Homo sapiens: one gene and its partner. The protein of the gene in region 2 interacts with the protein of the main gene of each other region in a biochemical or structural test. Each region holds a gene or a part of one and is shown on either strand. Other genes may lie near its edges.

Evidence for each region. The genes of interacting proteins can lie anywhere in the genome.
Region 1: the proteins of PHYH (region 2) and FKBP4 form a complex in vitro, tested with the Homo sapiens proteins (one study listed by BioGRID).

The regions. Positions count from the first base shown.
Region 1 is NC_000012.12:2,797,156-2,804,969, forward strand, and holds part of FKBP4 (peptidyl-prolyl cis-trans isomerase FKBP4), read left to right. Parts: coding exon 1-127; intron 128-573; coding exon 574-716; intron 717-1,550; coding exon 1,551-1,671; intron 1,672-1,932; coding exon 1,933-2,089; intron 2,090-2,694; coding exon 2,695-2,785; intron 2,786-2,883; coding exon 2,884-2,967; intron 2,968-3,236; coding exon 3,237-3,422; intron 3,423-3,961; coding exon 3,962-4,201; intron 4,202-5,995; coding exon 5,996-6,103; 3' UTR 6,104-7,814. UniProt on the Homo sapiens protein: Immunophilin protein with PPIase and co-chaperone activities. Component of steroid receptors heterocomplexes through interaction with heat-shock protein 90 (HSP90).
Region 2 is NC_000010.11:13,296,122-13,304,888, reverse strand, and holds the start of PHYH (phytanoyl-CoA dioxygenase, peroxisomal isoform a precursor), read left to right. Parts: upstream 1-4,824; 5' UTR 4,825-4,846; coding exon 4,847-4,921; intron 4,922-5,125; exon of another isoform or gene 5,126-5,469; intron 5,470-6,643; coding exon 6,644-6,702; intron 6,703-8,767. UniProt on the Homo sapiens protein: Catalyzes the 2-hydroxylation of not only racemic phytanoyl-CoA and the isomers of 3-methylhexadecanoyl-CoA, but also a variety of other mono-branched 3-methylacyl-CoA esters (with a chain length of at least seven carbon atoms) and straight-chain acyl-CoA esters (with a chain length longer than four carbon atoms).

The DNA of each region.
Region 1 (7,814 bases), on a different chromosome or scaffold from region 2:
ACAGGTACAGAGATGCCCATGATTGGGGACCGAGTCTTTGTCCACTACACTGGCTGGCTATTAGATGGCACAAAGTTTGACTCCAGTCTGGATCGCAAGGACAAATTCTCCTTTGACCTGGGAAAAGGTAGGCGTGGTCAGTGGGCTGGTAGGATAGGTTCGAGGTGGACACAAGCTGTCACAAGCAGAAACCATTTTCTCAGGACCAAGCTCAGGGAGGAATGGTTTATCACAGTCTGTTAACTCTTTCGGTCACTCTTTTTTTTTTTTTTCTACCGTTCTGTAACTATATTGATCTCTGTCTCCCCTTCTCCTCATCACCTCCCAACACCTTACTCCCCCTTCAAAGGTGGACTGTCTTGCATCTTAAACTCTTTTGTTCAGGGTCACGTGATCTTTTACAGTTCTTAGACCTGGTAGCACTTAATACAACCAGGTACCTCACCTTCTGGTCCCATTTCTAAAGGATGTCCAGCTTCCCCATGAGTGTGGTGCAGTAACTCTTCAGGAGCACTGTTTGAGCCCAGAATCAGAACCCTGCTAAGGCGGTCCTGTTTGCTTCTGTACCTGCAGGGGAGGTCATCAAGGCTTGGGACATTGCCATAGCCACCATGAAGGTGGGGGAGGTGTGCCACATCACCTGCAAACCAGAATATGCCTACGGTTCAGCAGGCAGTCCTCCAAAGATTCCCCCCAATGCCACGCTTGTATTTGAGGTGAGTGTTTGGTCACTGAGATCCAGGCTAAGAGCCAGGCCTTATCTCAGCCCAATGCCTGGCTGCCCTCCAGCCCTTCCTGCTTCTTGGAGACAATGTAGCCAAGGCTGAGGGTCTGGCCTTATGGGAGGAGAAATGCAGAGGGCTCTGCTGCTGCTAGTAATGGAAGTAATAGAAGCTTCGGGTGGGAAGAGGCAGGCACAAGCCCCTCTCCAGACTCAAAGCATGGTCAGGGTTAAGGCATCTTTATCTCCAGAGCGGTACCCAGAAGAATACTGAAAGGAGTCGGGATGTCAGAAACTATGTCCCGTTATAAATGGCAGTACAGAATATTGGTGCTCTAGAGACCAGAAGAGGGAGCAGTAGCTCCCCTGTGGGTCAAGGGCTGAGAAAAGGCTTCACTGAGGAGATAGAACTTGACATTGTTCAATCTGAAAATGGTTGAGCCAATCCGTGGGCCCTTGAATACTGAGAAACTGCTGAGAGATGTTGGGTAATCATTTCTAATACCTACCAGGTTGGGCTTATCAGGTAGTGTGAATTAGGATTATCTGGGACGCGTCCTGATATGTCCGTGTTAGTAGAGCAGGTAGCAAATAGATTGCTCTCCTCAGCTTAACTGAAATCTATGTAGTCTGCCCACCTCTACCAAAGTTGAGATTAGGGCAGCTCCCAAGAACTGAAAAAAAGTGCCACTCTACCCAACTCCTTGTGACTGCCCTTGTGGTCAGATCCGGCCTGGCAGTTAGTAGGGACTCTCTCGGATGAGAAAGATTGTGTTTCACTGCCCATGAGTTAGCATGGGAAGGAATTGTGTCACATCTTGTCCCACAGGTGGAGTTGTTTGAGTTTAAGGGAGAAGATCTGACGGAAGAGGAAGATGGCGGAATCATTCGCAGAATACAGACTCGCGGTGAAGGCTATGCTAAGCCCAATGAGGGTGCTATCGTGGAGGGTGAGACAGTACAGTCTGGGCTTTCAATTCTCATTCTGATATTTAGGCCTTGTGTGGCTTTGGGCAAGACACTTCCGTTCTCCGAGCCTATCTTCTTGTCCATAAAATGAGGGGTTGGACCATATTCTCTTCATATCACTCCAGATTTGAGAACACAGGAGAATCTTGGGATGATGGGGGTGATGCAGGGAGGCTGATGGCATCCTTCCTCAGTCACCTGCCCTCTTACAACTCTGGTACACTGCCTCTCTTTCATGCCAGTTGCACTGGAAGGGTACTACAAGGACAAGCTCTTTGACCAGCGGGAGCTCCGCTTTGAGATTGGCGAGGGGGAGAACCTGGATCTGCCTTATGGTCTGGAGAGGGCCATTCAGCGCATGGAGAAAGGAGAACATTCCATCGTGTACCTCAAGCCCAGGTGAGGGGTGGGCACTTCGTAGGGTAGGCAGGCAGGCAAACCAAGATCAAAGATATAAAATGAATTGTAGAACCAGCTGTTTGTATCCTTTTTAACTCTGGCCACACCAAACATACACCATTATGATATCCTCAGTGTACTTAGAAGTATGGCCCAATTGTCTACATCTCCTTGGATCTAAGCCCAGTCTTTTCAGTCATAGTTGCTACAGATTCTCTCCTCTGCCATCAAGATTTTCCTCTCCCATTAATTCATTTCAGTCATTACTGAAACAGCTACTACATGCCAGGCACTGCTGAAAATTCCTATAGGGCTTCAGAGACTAATAGAACATTGTTTCTGCCTTCTAATTCTAGCTCATTGTTTAGTGAGGTGCTATTTAAATTAGTAATCACACTGCTGCCTGGCTGTAAGTTATTAGAAGGGTATGAAGGATGCTGAGGGACCATCTGACAGTGTGAAGAGGCCAGGGAAGATTTGCCAAACATTTGAACCAAGTCTCAAGGGATGGGAAGGTACTTTCCAGGAAATGGACAGGAAGCCTTTTCAGCCTGGAGCAGGTTAAGTGTTGCCAAGATGATACATAGTGTTTTTCACCCCTCCAGCTATGCTTTTGGCAGTGTTGGGAAGGAAAAGTTCCAAATCCCACCAAATGCTGAGCTGAAATATGAATTACACCTCAAGAGTTTTGAAAAGGTAAGTTTGCTCAGGGTCTTCCCATCTAAAGTCAAGTTCCACCCTGTACGTGACTCTGGGGTAGCTGACAACTTTGTTTCTCTCCTGGGGTGTGGCAGGCCAAGGAGTCTTGGGAGATGAATTCAGAAGAGAAGCTGGAACAGAGCACCATAGTGAAAGAGCGGGGCACTGTGTACTTCAAGGTGAGCCAACAGTCATTGTCCTAAGGACACTCCCAGGAAGAGTTGCTCTGAGCCTCCCCTTCCCTTGGTGACTGAGATCATTTTCTGCCAAGAAGTGGACAGGTTGGCACCTGCCATCTTCACTTCATATATGTGAGCTTGCTGGCCTTGCCAGTGGGAAGGGTGGGAGCAGGAACCTCTTGTGGCCATGTGTCACTGATGTCTGCAGGGTATAAGAGCCTAGTACCACTGAAACTGTGCCAGGTGCCTGAGCCTCTCTCCCATTCCAGGAAGGTAAATACAAGCAAGCTTTACTACAGTATAAGAAGATCGTGTCTTGGCTGGAATATGAGTCTAGTTTTTCCAATGAGGAAGCACAGAAAGCACAGGCCCTTCGACTGGCCTCTCACCTCAACCTGGCCATGTGTCATCTGAAACTACAGGCCTTCTCTGCTGCCATTGAAAGCTGTAACAAGGTGAGGCCCCCTCAGAGGTCATGGAAGCAGCATTCACAGGCAGAGTTGGGTGAGCTGCCAGCATGTCTGAAACTTCCCCTTGGTGACTAGGGCAGGGATAGCAGGGTGGATCAGTGGGAGCTCTGAGGTTACAGACCAAAGGCACGGATGCAAGTATTCATAGCAAGAACCTTAGCTTTGGTGGGAAGCAGTTGGCAAGAAGGAGGAGGACACGGAATGGGAAGAATCACATAAAGAGTTTTCTTCCACCTTGGTTCTTAGCCTCTCCGCTTACCTACTTGCTTTATTCTAAAGTGAATGTTAATGTCTGAAGTCTTTATTTCATCCAAAGACCTGCTGTCTTCCCTCTCTGCCTGTTGGATTAAATGAGGTCCCTGGATTGTTCCATTTAATGCCTCAGGCCTTGTTCTTCCTGGGGTGCAGCCAGCCACTTGCATTCCTCCTCATCCTCCTGAGGGGTACCTTTGGAACCCAGTCTAGGCCAGATGAGCTACAAGCCCTGAGCTCCCACAATGTGGCTTCCTCTCTGCATTCTTTAGGCCCTAGAACTGGACAGCAACAACGAGAAGGGCCTCTTCCGCCGGGGAGAGGCCCACCTGGCCGTGAATGACTTTGAACTGGCACGGGCTGATTTCCAGAAGGTCCTGCAGCTCTACCCCAACAACAAAGCCGCCAAGACCCAGCTGGCTGTGTGCCAGCAGCGGATCCGAAGGCAGCTTGCCCGGGAGAAGAAGCTCTATGCCAATATGTTTGAGAGGCTGGCTGAGGAGGAGAACAAGGTGAGGATTGGGGTGGGGAACAGTTGGAATAGCATCCCTCCACTTAACCTGGCTACTGTGGGCTCTTTGTGCCTTTGGTTGTCTGTGCCAATCCCGGAAACCAGAAGTTGCCTTTTCCCTGGAGCATTAAGGAGCACGTGTTCCTGCTGTTGGGGCCAGTGTTCTGTGATCAGTGCGGGAAACCTACCCACAAGCCCCAGAAGTTGGGTTGGTTGCCCTGAGTGTAATTCCCGATTTATGTTTTCTTGTGGGCCAGGCGCCGTGGCTCACACCTGCAATCCCAGCACTTTGCAGAGCCAAAGTGGGAGGATCACTTGAACCCAGTAGGTAGAGACCTCAGTGACTTAGGATGGCACCACTGCACCCCAGCCTGAGTGACAAAATGAAACCCCATCTCAAAAAAAGAAAAGCGAGATGCTTTTTGTGTGTGATTAAATAAATAATACACTTAGTTAAATTCAAACTGTACCAAAGTATACAGTCAAGTCTGCCTCCCCCACCAGAAGCAGCTGCCCCTTCAGGGTCTTGGATGGTCCAGTGTATTGCGTCAAGGCACAGGCAGACGTTCCTGTTGCTTCCTCCCTTTCCCCTAACACAGGCAACGTGCTCCACCTATGATTTGGCGCATACTATGCTTTTTTCACGTAATAGTAGCTGGAGGCTTATTTTACATCCGTATTTAAAGAACTTTTACATTCTTTCTTAGGCTTACATTGTATTCCATTGTATGGATATGGCTTGTCTTAGTCAATCAGTCCCTTTTTAGTCTTCCAGTGGTTTTATTTTTTTTCTTTTTCTGAGACAGAGTTTCGTTCTTGTTGCCCAGGCTGGAGTGCAATGGCATGATCTTGGCTCACTGCAAACTCCACCTCCTGGGTTCAAGCGATTCTCCTGCCTCGGCCTCCCGAGTAGCTGGGATTACAGGCGCCCGCCACCACACCCGGCTAATTTTTGTATTTTTAGTACAGACGAAGTTTCATCATGTTGACCAGGCTCTCGAACTCCTGACTTTAGTGATCTGCCCACCCCTGCCTCCCAAAGTGGTGGGATTACAGGTGTGAGCCACCACACCCAGCCAGTCTTAAACAGTGTTCTAAACCAGCACTGTCCAGTAGAAATACAGTATCAACCACATGTAATTCAAAATTTTCTGGTAACCATGTTAAAAAGGTGAAAAACAAATGGAATTAAATTTTAGTTGCATTTGTGTATTTTTCAAACCATCTTCAAAATCCAATGTATATTTTGCACTAAAAACACGAGTTTGAACTAGCCACTTACAGTAGTGGCTACCATACGGGACAGTGCTGCTTAGAACAGCATTGCAGTGAATAACCTCATGAGTTCATAATTTGTACATATACAAGTGTTCTGTTTTGTTTTGTTTGAGACAGTGTCTCTTGCCCTGCCGCCCAGGCTGGAGTGCAGTGGCACAGTCTCAGTTCACTGTAACCTCTGCCTCCAGGGCTCAAGTGATCCTCTTGTCTCAGCCTCCCGAGTAGCTGGGACTACAGGTGCATGCCACCACGCCCAGGTAATTTTTGTAATTTTTGTTGAGATGAGGTTTCACCATGTTGCCCAGGCTGATCTCAAACTTCTGGGCTCAAGCAATCTGACCACCTCAGCCTCCCAAAGTGCTGGGATTACAGGCATAAGCCACCAGGCTTGGCCTATACAGGTATAGCTTTAGGACAGATGTAGGAGAATGGGTGTATCTGTGTAATTCTGCTGGAAATTAAGTGTGTGTTTTTTCACTTGGGAAGTCAGCCCGTTTGCTGTTCATCTTCCTTGCAGGCCAAGGCAGAGGCTTCCTCAGGAGACCATCCCACTGACACAGAGATGAAGGAGGAGCAGAAGAGCAACACGGCAGGGAGCCAGTCTCAGGTGGAGACAGAAGCATAGCCCCTCTCCACCAGCCCTACTCCTGCGGCTGCCTGCCCCCCAGTCTCCCCACTCCACCCTGTTAGTTTTGTAAAAACTGAAGAATTTTGAGTGAATTAGACCTTTATTTTTCTATCTGGTTGGATGGTGGCTTTAGGGGAAGGGGGAAAGGTGTAGGCTGGGGGATTGAGGTGGGGAATCATTTTAGCTGGTGTCAGCCCCTCTTCCCTTCCTCCATTGCACATGAACATATGTCCATCCATATATATTCATCAGAATGTTAATTTATTTTGCTCCCTCTGTTAGGTCCATTTTCTAAGGGTAGAAGAGGCAAGTGGTAGGGATGAGGTCTGATAAGAACCCAGGGTGGAGAGGGAGACTCCTGGGCAGCCGTTTTCCTCATCCTTTCCCTCTCCCAGTCCATTTCCAAATGTGGCCTCCATGTGGGTGCTAGGGACATGGGAAAAACCACTGCTATGCCATTTCTTCTCTCTGTTCCCTTCCTCACCCCCGACGGTGTGGCTGATGATGTCTTCTGGTGTCATGGTGACCACCCCCTGTTCCCTGTTCTGGTATTTCCCCTGTCAGTTTCCCCTCTCGGCCAGGTTGTGTCCCAAAATCCCCTCAGCCTCTTCTCTGCACGTTGCTGAAGGTCCAGGCTTGCCTCAAGTTCCATGCTTGAGCAATAAAGTGGAAACAATAAAACCTGGGTGTCAGACAACCCTTTCTGTTCAGCCTTGGAGTGGTGGGTATGGGTGGGTACATAATGGGTAGTAGCACAATCAAGGGGTCACCCACTTAGTTCCAGTTGAGCTTAAATAAGTGAGCATCTCATGTAGATGCCATAGTTGGGCAGGAAGCAGCCCCACCATGCATGGCTTCCTGAGCACTGCACAGGCTGCCGCTGGGATTTGTGTCTATGGCTTCGCCCAAGGTTCCCAGCACTCCCTCCCTCCAGCAACCTGGCAGTTTTAGTGCCTCTGGTTTTCTTCCCTGACACTTAGGAAGACGAAAGTATAAAGATCTAGAAGACTGGGACACCATGCATGTTCATTTTGAAGTTGGAATTGGTCTTCTGCCTACCTCTGATCTGGCAGAGGTATCTGCATTTTGGTTTGTTAACAAGGTAAAACTCCTGGTGTCACTGACCTCCTCCTGTCAGATAACTTACATGATTAAGGTTAAGAGTAAAGCAGAGTGTTCACGTCCAGCTTCCTTCTCAGCCTTAACAGGAAAAGGCTTGTGCTTTTTTTCTAACTATGCTTTGACCCTTAACTCCTATGGCATGATGGGGCCCTGGGAGAAGCCAGGCAGCACAAGCCAGTCATGCTGAGCTGCCTCCAGATAATCCTGGCTCCAGGCCAGAGCCCGTGTCTGCCCTCATCCCTCTCTCCTACTGTGAGCTCTCCAGTCCTTTCCCAACAGCGATGTGGTTGTCTGCTTAGCCACATGCCTGTATAGTTCCTTCCAGAAGAAATGTATAATGGTGGAAGATGTATTTCTGTGTGAAAATTTTCACCAAGTCATACAACACAGCTGATGCTGGAGCCAGGATTAAAATTGGGGTGTACAAGTCTCCCAGTGTGAGTATCCCTTGAGCCCAAGACACCAAGGATGCAGAGAACTGTGACTGTGCCACTGCACGCCAGCCTGGGCAAGAGAGTGAGACCATCTCTTTTTTAAAAAAGTCCCTGTGTAACTGCTTTCTTACTGGGCTTACCTCACATCACAG
Region 2 (8,767 bases):
GCTGGATTACAGGCATAAGCCACCACACCCAGCTAACTTTTTAAACTTTTTAAAATAAATTTTAGAGATAGGATCTCTATCACTCAGGCTGGAGTACAGTAGGGGATCATGGCTCACTGCAGCCTAGAACCCTGAGCTCAAGCAATCCTCCTGCCTCAGACTCTGGAGTAGCTAGGACTACACGTGCGCCACTGCACCCCGCTATTTCTTTTTAAAATTTTTTGTAGAGGCGAAGTCTTGCTATGTTGCCCAGGCTGGTCTCGAGCCTCTTGGTTCAAGCAATCCTCTGCCTCGACCTGCCAAAGTGCTGACATTACAGGCGGGAGCCACCATGCTTGGCTTCAACTATTTATTTATTTATTTAATTTATTATTTTGTTTTTGAAACACAGTCTTGCTCTGTCGCCCAGGCTGGAGTGCAGTGGCACAATATTGGCTCACTTCAACCTCCACCTCCTGGGCTCAAGCGATCCTCCCACATCAGCCTCTCAAGTGGCTGGTACTACAGGTGTGCCACGCTCAGCTAATTTTCTGGGGTTTTTGTTTGTTTGTTTGTTTTCTGGTTTTCGTTTTTGTGTTTGTTTCTTTGTTTGAGATGGAGTTTCACTCGTGTTGCCCAAGCTGGAGTGCAATGACGCTATCTCGGCTCACTGCAACCTCCACCTCCCGGGTTCAAGCGATTCTCCTGCCCCGGCCTCCTGAGTAGCTGGGATTACAGGCATGTGCCACCACGCCCAGCTAATTTTTTTTTTTTTTTTTTTGGTACTTTTAGTAGAGACGGGTTTTTAACATGTTAGCCAGACTGGTCTGGAGCTCCTGACCTCAGGTGATCCACCTGCCTCAGCCTCTCAAAGTGCTGGGATTACAGGCGTGACCCACTTCCCCTAGCCAGTTTGAACAATTTAATCCAAGATTTTAAAACTCAAACATTTTACTTAGCTGTTCAAATATGGCTATTATTTAACAAATCATTTAATTTATATATATGGGGAAAACTATTCCTTAGATCATTTTGAAAATTGTGTTTCAAAACTTGTCTGCAAGGTTACTTTCAATACGTAAGTAACCAAGCACATTACTGGAAGTGGGGGGAAGCTAATTTTGAAGTAATCTTCAAAAGGTCAACTTTAATAAGAAATGAATAAATGCCTAATACCAAAGGGGAAAGAACTTTTCATTCTTGTGATAATGTTTACATTCCATTAATGTTCTGCTTCAATTGTTCTAAAATATTTTTATTTTAATAACATAATTATTAAAGATGCCTACTTAGGGAATTTTCCAATAATCCAAATAGCTATTTGAAAGAAAACTAGTAACATTCATCAAATTACCTCTTTACCTACGGAGAAATTATTATGTTAATTCTCCGTGGGATCTTAAATGAAAAATGTTAAACCCAGCATCCCTCTAATTTTAAAAAGGCAGATAACAATTGTGAGCATTTAAGAATTTCCTTCATCTGTCGGTAAAAAGCATCAGTTTGGGCCGGGTGCGGTGGTTTACGCCTGTAATCCCAGCACTTTGGGAGGTTGAGGCGGGCGGATCACTTGAGGTCATGAGTTCGAGACCAGCCTGGCCAAAATGGTGAAACTGGCTCTACTAAAAATACAAAAAATTAGCTGAGCTTGATGGCGCGCCTGTAATCCCAGCTACTCAGGAGGCTGAGTCAGGAGAATCTCTTGAACCCGGAAGGCAGAGGTCGCAGTGAGCCGAGATCACGCCCTGCACTCCAGCCTGGGAAACAGAGTCAGACTCCGTCTCAAAAAAAAAAAAAAAAGAAAAGAAAAGCATAAATTTAAATACATCTAAATATCTAAGTACATCCTTGTATAAATGCCTTGGGGGAGAGATGGCAGGAATTTTCACATGGTTGTGAAATTAGGGCATTTTAAAGGAACAGTAAAAACACAGGTGTAAGTAGCTTCATCTCATTCGAATTTCTTTATTGGTCATGAAAACCAATCACCGTCAGCGCGGGTAAAGGTCCTGATCTTTTTTTTTTTTTATTTTTTCACCCAGGCTGGAGTGCAGTGGCACGACCTCGGCTCACTGCAAGCTCCGCCTCCCGGGTTCACGCCATTCTCCTGCCTCAGCCTCCCGAGCAGCTGGGACAACAGGCGACCGCCACCACCCTGCTAACTTTTTTGTATTTTTAGTAGAGACCGGGCTTCACCGTGTTAACCAAGATGGTCTCGATCTCCTGACCTCCTAATCTGCCTGCCTCGGCCTCCCAAAGTGCTGGGATTACAGGCGTGAGCCACCGCGCCCGGCCAAGGTCCGATTTTTTAATAAACAAGGGAAGGGTGATGAACTGAATTCACAGCTTCAGTTTTTTTTCTCCTGGCAGCAGTGCCCACATTTCACCAGGCGAGGGCAGAAAGGAGAGACCGCCTCGCCGGTCCACATCCAGAAAGGGGCGTTCCCAAGGGCAGAAAGAGGCCGACCCTCCACCTGCACCCGCCCCAGGCCCTGCGCTTGCGTTCAAACCGTGACAAACCGTAGAGTCCTTGAGAGCCCCGGGTTACTCCTACATGGTCATATTCCCGCGCGGGATGCCGAAGTGGGGCAGATGAGGTCCGGAGCTGCTGAGGGATCCCGGGTCCTTCTGTTGGTCTGAGACCCTGGGGCGGGCGGAATCCCGGAGAAAGCCGGAGGGACTCCCCAGTGGAAGCCTGGGAGCTGCCGTTCTCCTCCCTGCCTGTGCAAACAGGAAGGGGCTGGTGATGCTGGCTGCGGGCCTCCCTCCTGGACTGCGACATTGTCACCAAATTCTATAAAGACGTCATGCAGGAAGTGATAACGTGTGCTGCGACGTTCTGGAAGTAACTCGAAGCTAAAAAAGAACAAAAAATCAATGAAAAAATGAAACTAAAGAAACAATGAGATGCTATGTCAATATCCGTAGTTATGGAATGGAAAATAAATCTTACAAAGAGATGCTGGAGTTATCTAAGAAATTTACACCATACTGGCCTGTGTGCATCAGACTTTTCTGGAGGTCATTTATTTTATTCACTTTTTTTTTTTTTATGACCAACCGAACTTTCTAATATTTTGGGCTGGAGTCCCACTAAATGAAATACCCCTTTTGAATGGCACATATGACTTTTAGGGATGCATCTTAGCATTTTTATTTTTTTATTTTTATTTTCAAAACTTCATTGATGTTTTGGAGTTTTGTTTGTTTTTTGTTTTTGTGTTTTTTGGACATGGCCTCACTCTGTCGCCCAGGCTGGAGTGCAGAGGCACGATCTGGGCTCACTGCAACTTCAAACTCCCGGGCTCAGGTGATCCTCCTGCAGCAGGACGAGCCGCAGACAAAACTCAGACACCGGATTAAAGAAGGGCTGTATTAGGCCGGGAACTTCGGCAGACTTGCAACCGAGGTCCCTGAAAAAGAAATTCTTGGCCCTTTTAAGGGCTTGTAACTCTAAGGGTCTACGTGAAAGTTTAGTGAGAGATCGAGCAAGCGTGGGGAACATGACTGGGGGCTACAGGCAACAGCTAACAGAACAGAAAGTTTTGCAATGCTTCCTCATACAATGTCTGGAATTTTTATTTATTTAATTTATTGATTTATTTTTTATTTTTTTTGAGACGGAGTCTTGCTCTGTCGCCCAGGCTGGAGTGCGGTGGCGCCATCTCGCTCACTGCAAGGTCCGCCTCCTGGGTTTACACCGTTCTCCTGCCTCAGCCTCCTGAGTAGCTGGGACTACAGGCGCCCGCCACGACGCCCGGCTAATTTTTTTGTAGATCAGGTGTTCTCACTATGTTACCCAGGCTGCTTTCGATCTATAGCGATCCTGAGCTCAAGCGATCCTCCTGCCTCGGCCTCCCAAAGTGTTGGAGTTACGGGCGTGAGCCACCGCACCCGGCTAAAAACCTGTTTGTTTGTTTGTTTGTTTGTTTAGAGACGGAGTCTTGCCCTGTCACCCAGGCTGGAATGCAGTGGCGCCATCTCGCTGACTGCATCCTCCGCCTCCCGGTTGCAAGTGATTCTCTTGCCTCAGCCTCCCCAGTAGCTGGGATTACAGGCGTGCGCCACAACACTCAGCTAATTTTTGTATCTTTAGTAGAGACGGGTTTTCACCAAGTTGGCCAGGCTGGTCTCGAACTCCTGACCCCGTGATCCGCCTGCCTTGGCCTCCCAAAGTGCTGGGATTACAGGCGTGAGCCACCGCGCCCGGCAAACTTTTTGTTTAAATCGGAGATTTTATTCTTTCAGCTGTCAGTGGAAGGAGCAGTCACGTAGGGTTAAACAGATGGAAGCCATGACGTTAGGAGAGTGAGTGAGGTCCCAGCCCAGCCACTTGTCACTGTGTGACCTCGGCCTGGTCACTGGGCCCCCGAGCTTCGGTGCGGCAGGGAGGGTCCTGGTGATGGAACAGAAACAGGGTGCGGGGCAGGGGTAATGACTCACGCCTGTAGTCCCAGCACTTTGGGAGGTCGAGACGGGAGGCGGGGGGAGTTTGAGACCCACCTGGGCAACGTAGCGAGACCCCATCTCTACAAAAAATAAAAATTAGCCCAAGAGTTCAAGGCTGCAGTGAGCTATGATCGCGCACTGCACTCCAGCCTGGGCGACAGAGCAAGATCTTGTTTCTTTTTAAAAAGAAAGAAAATAAAGGACGGAAGGATCATGGTGTGGGGAGGACTTCAGCCCCGGGCGGTTGCCCGGCGCGCGGACTCTAGCGGACTAGGGCTCCCCAGCAGCCCGGCCCGCGAGCTGGCACCGCCCGGAATCCCGCTTACGTCCAGTCCGGGGCGGCGCCTGGAGGCGGAGCCGCCCGCTGGGCTAAATGGGGCAGAGGCCGGGAGGGGTGGGGGTTCCCCGCGCCGCAGCCATGGAGCAGCTTCGCGCCGCCGCCCGTCTGCAGATTGTTCTGGGCCACCTCGGCCGCCCCTCGGCCGGGGCTGTCGTATCCTTTGGGCTGCGCGGGGCTCGGGCTGGATCCGGCGCCGGCGCCGCCGCCTGAGTGGTGGCCCTGGTCCGGGTGGAGGCCTCGGGGTCGCACGCTTCGCAGCCCCAGCGCCTCCTCGCTCAGCGCCGCGTCCCCGCCTGGGTCGCGTCTCTTCCAGGAGCCGGGGAGCGGGGAAGAGGCTGCGTCCCCCGAGGACACGCGCGGCCGCCCTGGGGTCGGGGCAATTGCCGCGTTGCCCTGCCCTCCGGGATCCCTGGGGGCCTCTGCTCCTCTCTTTGTGGAGACGTCGTTTCACCGGCGGCGCGTGACCCCGGCAGCTGTCCAGAGACCCAGAGATGTCCAATCACAGGCGCACGGTGCACAGGCGCGCAGGGCTGCCTGGAACCGGCCCAGGCAGGCAGTGACCGGGACCTCTCCGGAGGGGAGAGGACGGTGCCCTCCCGGGCAGGAGCTGGCCAGGCAGGCGCTGCCCAGGGCGGCCTCCCTGCTGGACTACGGCATTGCCACTGAGTTATATAAAGACACTATTTGGGGAAGGACAGCGGGTGAGGACTGGCGCGGCGGCACACGCCTTGCCTGTTGTCTCGGCTCTTCTGGGGGCCAAGGCCAGGAGTCCAGGGTTACAGTGAGCCGTGATGGCCAGTGCGTTCCAAAAGAGAGAAACAGAGAGAAAGAAAGGATAACATGTTAATTGATGAGAGTGACATTCCGAAAGTAACCGATTAAGCTAAAGAAACAATGCAATTCTATGTCAACTCTCTGCAGTTACCGGATAGAAAGGAGATCTTTAAAAGGAATTTCTAGGGTTTTGCTTTTTTGGTTTTTTTTTTTTTTTGAAACAGGGCCTCACTCTGTCACCCAGGCTGGAGTGCAGTAGTGGTACGATCTCGGCTCACTCCTGGGCTCAAGAGATCCTTCCACCTCAGCCTCCTAAGTAGTTGGGACTACAGGGTTGCGCCACGATGCCAGGCGAATTTATGTTGTTGTTGTTATTGTTGTTATTATTATTATTATTATTATTATTATTATTATTATTATTATTTTTGAGACGGAGTCTTGCTCTGTGGTCAGGCTGGAGTGCAGTGCCGCACTCTGCAATGTCGGCCCACTGCAACCTCCGCCTCCCAGGTTCAAGCCATTCCCCTGCCTCAGCCTCCCAAGTGTAATTTGTATTATTATTATTAGTAGTAGTAGTAGTAGCAGTAGTAGTAGTAGTAGTAGTAGTAGTAGTAGTAGTAGTAGTAGTGGTGGTAGTTTTTTTTCTGAGATGGAGTCTCTCTCTGTTGCCCAGGCTGGAATGCAGTGGCCTGATCTCAGCTCACTGCAATCTCCACCTCCCAGGTTCAAGCAATTCTCCTGTCTTAGCCTCTCCAGTAGCTGGGATTACAAATGAACGCCACCACGCCTGGCTAATTTTTGTATTTTTAGTAGAGATGGGGTTTCACCATATTGGTCAGGCTGGTCTCGAAATCCCGACCTCAGGTGATCCATCCGCCTCGGCCTCCCAAAGTGCTAGGATTACAAACGTGAGCCACCGCCCCCGGCCTAATTTGTATTTTTAGTAGAGATGGGGTTTCACCATGTTGGCCAGGCTGGTCTCGAACTCCTGAGCTCAAGTAATCCTCCTGCCTCAGCCTCCCAAAGTGCTGGAATTACAGGCATGAGCCACCGTGCCTGGCCTTCTATATTTTACTTTATTTGCCTTAATTCACATCCTAGGTAGCTCATCCCACTTCAGGGACTATTTCCTCTGCCAGTTTCCATCCTCAACAATTCCAGTAAGTAGTTTGAGTTTTGATTTTGAAATATATTATGTATATAAAAGTTTCTTGAGTGGTAATGAAGATATACCACATAATATGTTACCTGATTAGAATTTTATTATACAAATCCTCTGTTTCCAGGACTTATTCTAATTAGTGCACTTGTGGAAAATTTTGGAGACCGACTAATTTTCTGTATGTATTTTAAGATTCAGAAAGAAGGAAAAATACCAGAAAATACATAATCCGACATTTATTTATTTATTTTTAATAGAGACGGGCCCTTCCTATGTTGCCCAGGCTGGTGTTGAACTCCTGGGCTAAAGCAATCCTCCTGCCTTGGCCTCCCAAAGTGCTGGGATTGCAGCCTGAGCCATCACACCAGCCTTATAATCTGACTTTTAAAAATTCAGTTAAACATCTCATTTAAATTAACTTGTGGCCGGGCACCGTGGCTCATGCCTGTAATCCCAGCACTTTGGGAGGCCAAGGCAGGTGGATCACTTGAGGTCAGGAGTTCGAGACCAGCCTGGCCAACATCTCTACAAACCCCACCTCTACAAAATGAAAAAATACAAAAATTAGCTGGGCATGGTGGTGTGCACCTATAATCCCAGCTACTCAGGAGGCTGAAGTGGGAGAATCGCTTGAACCTTGGAAGTCAAGGTTGCAGTGAGCTGAGATCACGCCACTGAACTCCAGCCTGGGTGATAGAGCCAGACTCCATCTCAAAAAACAAAACAAAACAAAACAAATTAGCTTGTATTTGGTTATATGGACATATTAGCTAGCATCTTTGGTTTATCTTAAATCACCTTTAAAGGGGAAGATCTTGACCTTCCTAAATATTCTCATACAACCACAATTCCGATCTTAAGGAATAGGTTGGGTGATTTGAGTTTATGGGTATGCTGTACATTTATTTGGATTTTGTTACTTTACCTTCTTGGAATGCATCAACTGGACAGTTAAAAATATACAATTTATTGAATTTGTTTCCCATCTGAAAAATCATATGTATTCATTACAGAAACATCAGAGAAATAGAAGGAATTTTAAAAAATCATCCCTAATTCCATTTCTAAAGGCAATCACTGTTAAAAATTGCTTTGGTGTATTTCTTTGCAGGCTTTTCTTTTTTTCATATAGTGTCTTGGTTTTACATAATTGTAATAATATTTTATTATAATAAGCATTGTCCATACTATTTTTTATTTTATTATATTTTATTATATTTTATTTTATTTTGAGACCGAGTCTGGCTCTGTCGCCCAGGCTGGAGTGCAGTGGTGCCATCTTGCTTCACTGCAAGCTCCGCCTCCCGGGTTCACGCCATTCTCCTGCCTCAGCCTCTCCAGTAGCTGGACTACAGGCGCCAGACACCATGCCGGGCTAATTTTTTGCATTTTTAGTAGAGGCGGGTTTCACCGTGTTAGCCAGGATGGTCCCGATCTGACCTCGTGATCCGCCCACCTCAGCCTCCCAAAGCTAGGATTACAGGCATGAGCCACTGTGCCCGCCATCCATACTATTATATGGCCTTAATTTTTAATGTCTGAGTCATATTCCACTGAGTGAACATAGTGTCACTAGTTAATTTTTCTTCCACTAATGCACTTTTTTTTTTTTTTTTTTTTCTGAGATGGAGCCTTGCTCTGTCACCCAGGCTGGAGTGCACTGGTGCAATCCTGGCTCACTGCAATCTCCACCCCCACAGGTTCTAGCGATTCTCCTGCCTCATCCTCTTGAGTAGCTGGGATTACAGGCACGCTAATTTTTGTATTTTTAGTAGAGATGGGGTTTCATCATGTGAGTCAGGCTGGTCTCGAACTCCCGACCTCAGGTGATCCACCTGCCTCAGCCTCCCAAAAAGCTGGGATTACAGGCATGAGCCACTGTGCCCGGCCCACTAATGCACTTGTTTTGGTGACATAAAGCGTAAGTTTTCAGATTATTTCCTTGGTCTTAGAAATGCTGAATTGAAGAGCATGAACGTTTCCTAGGTTCTTGTTTTTGTCTTTGTTTTTGTTTTTTGAGACGGAGTCTGGCTCTGTCGCCCAGGCTGGAGTGCAGTGCCATG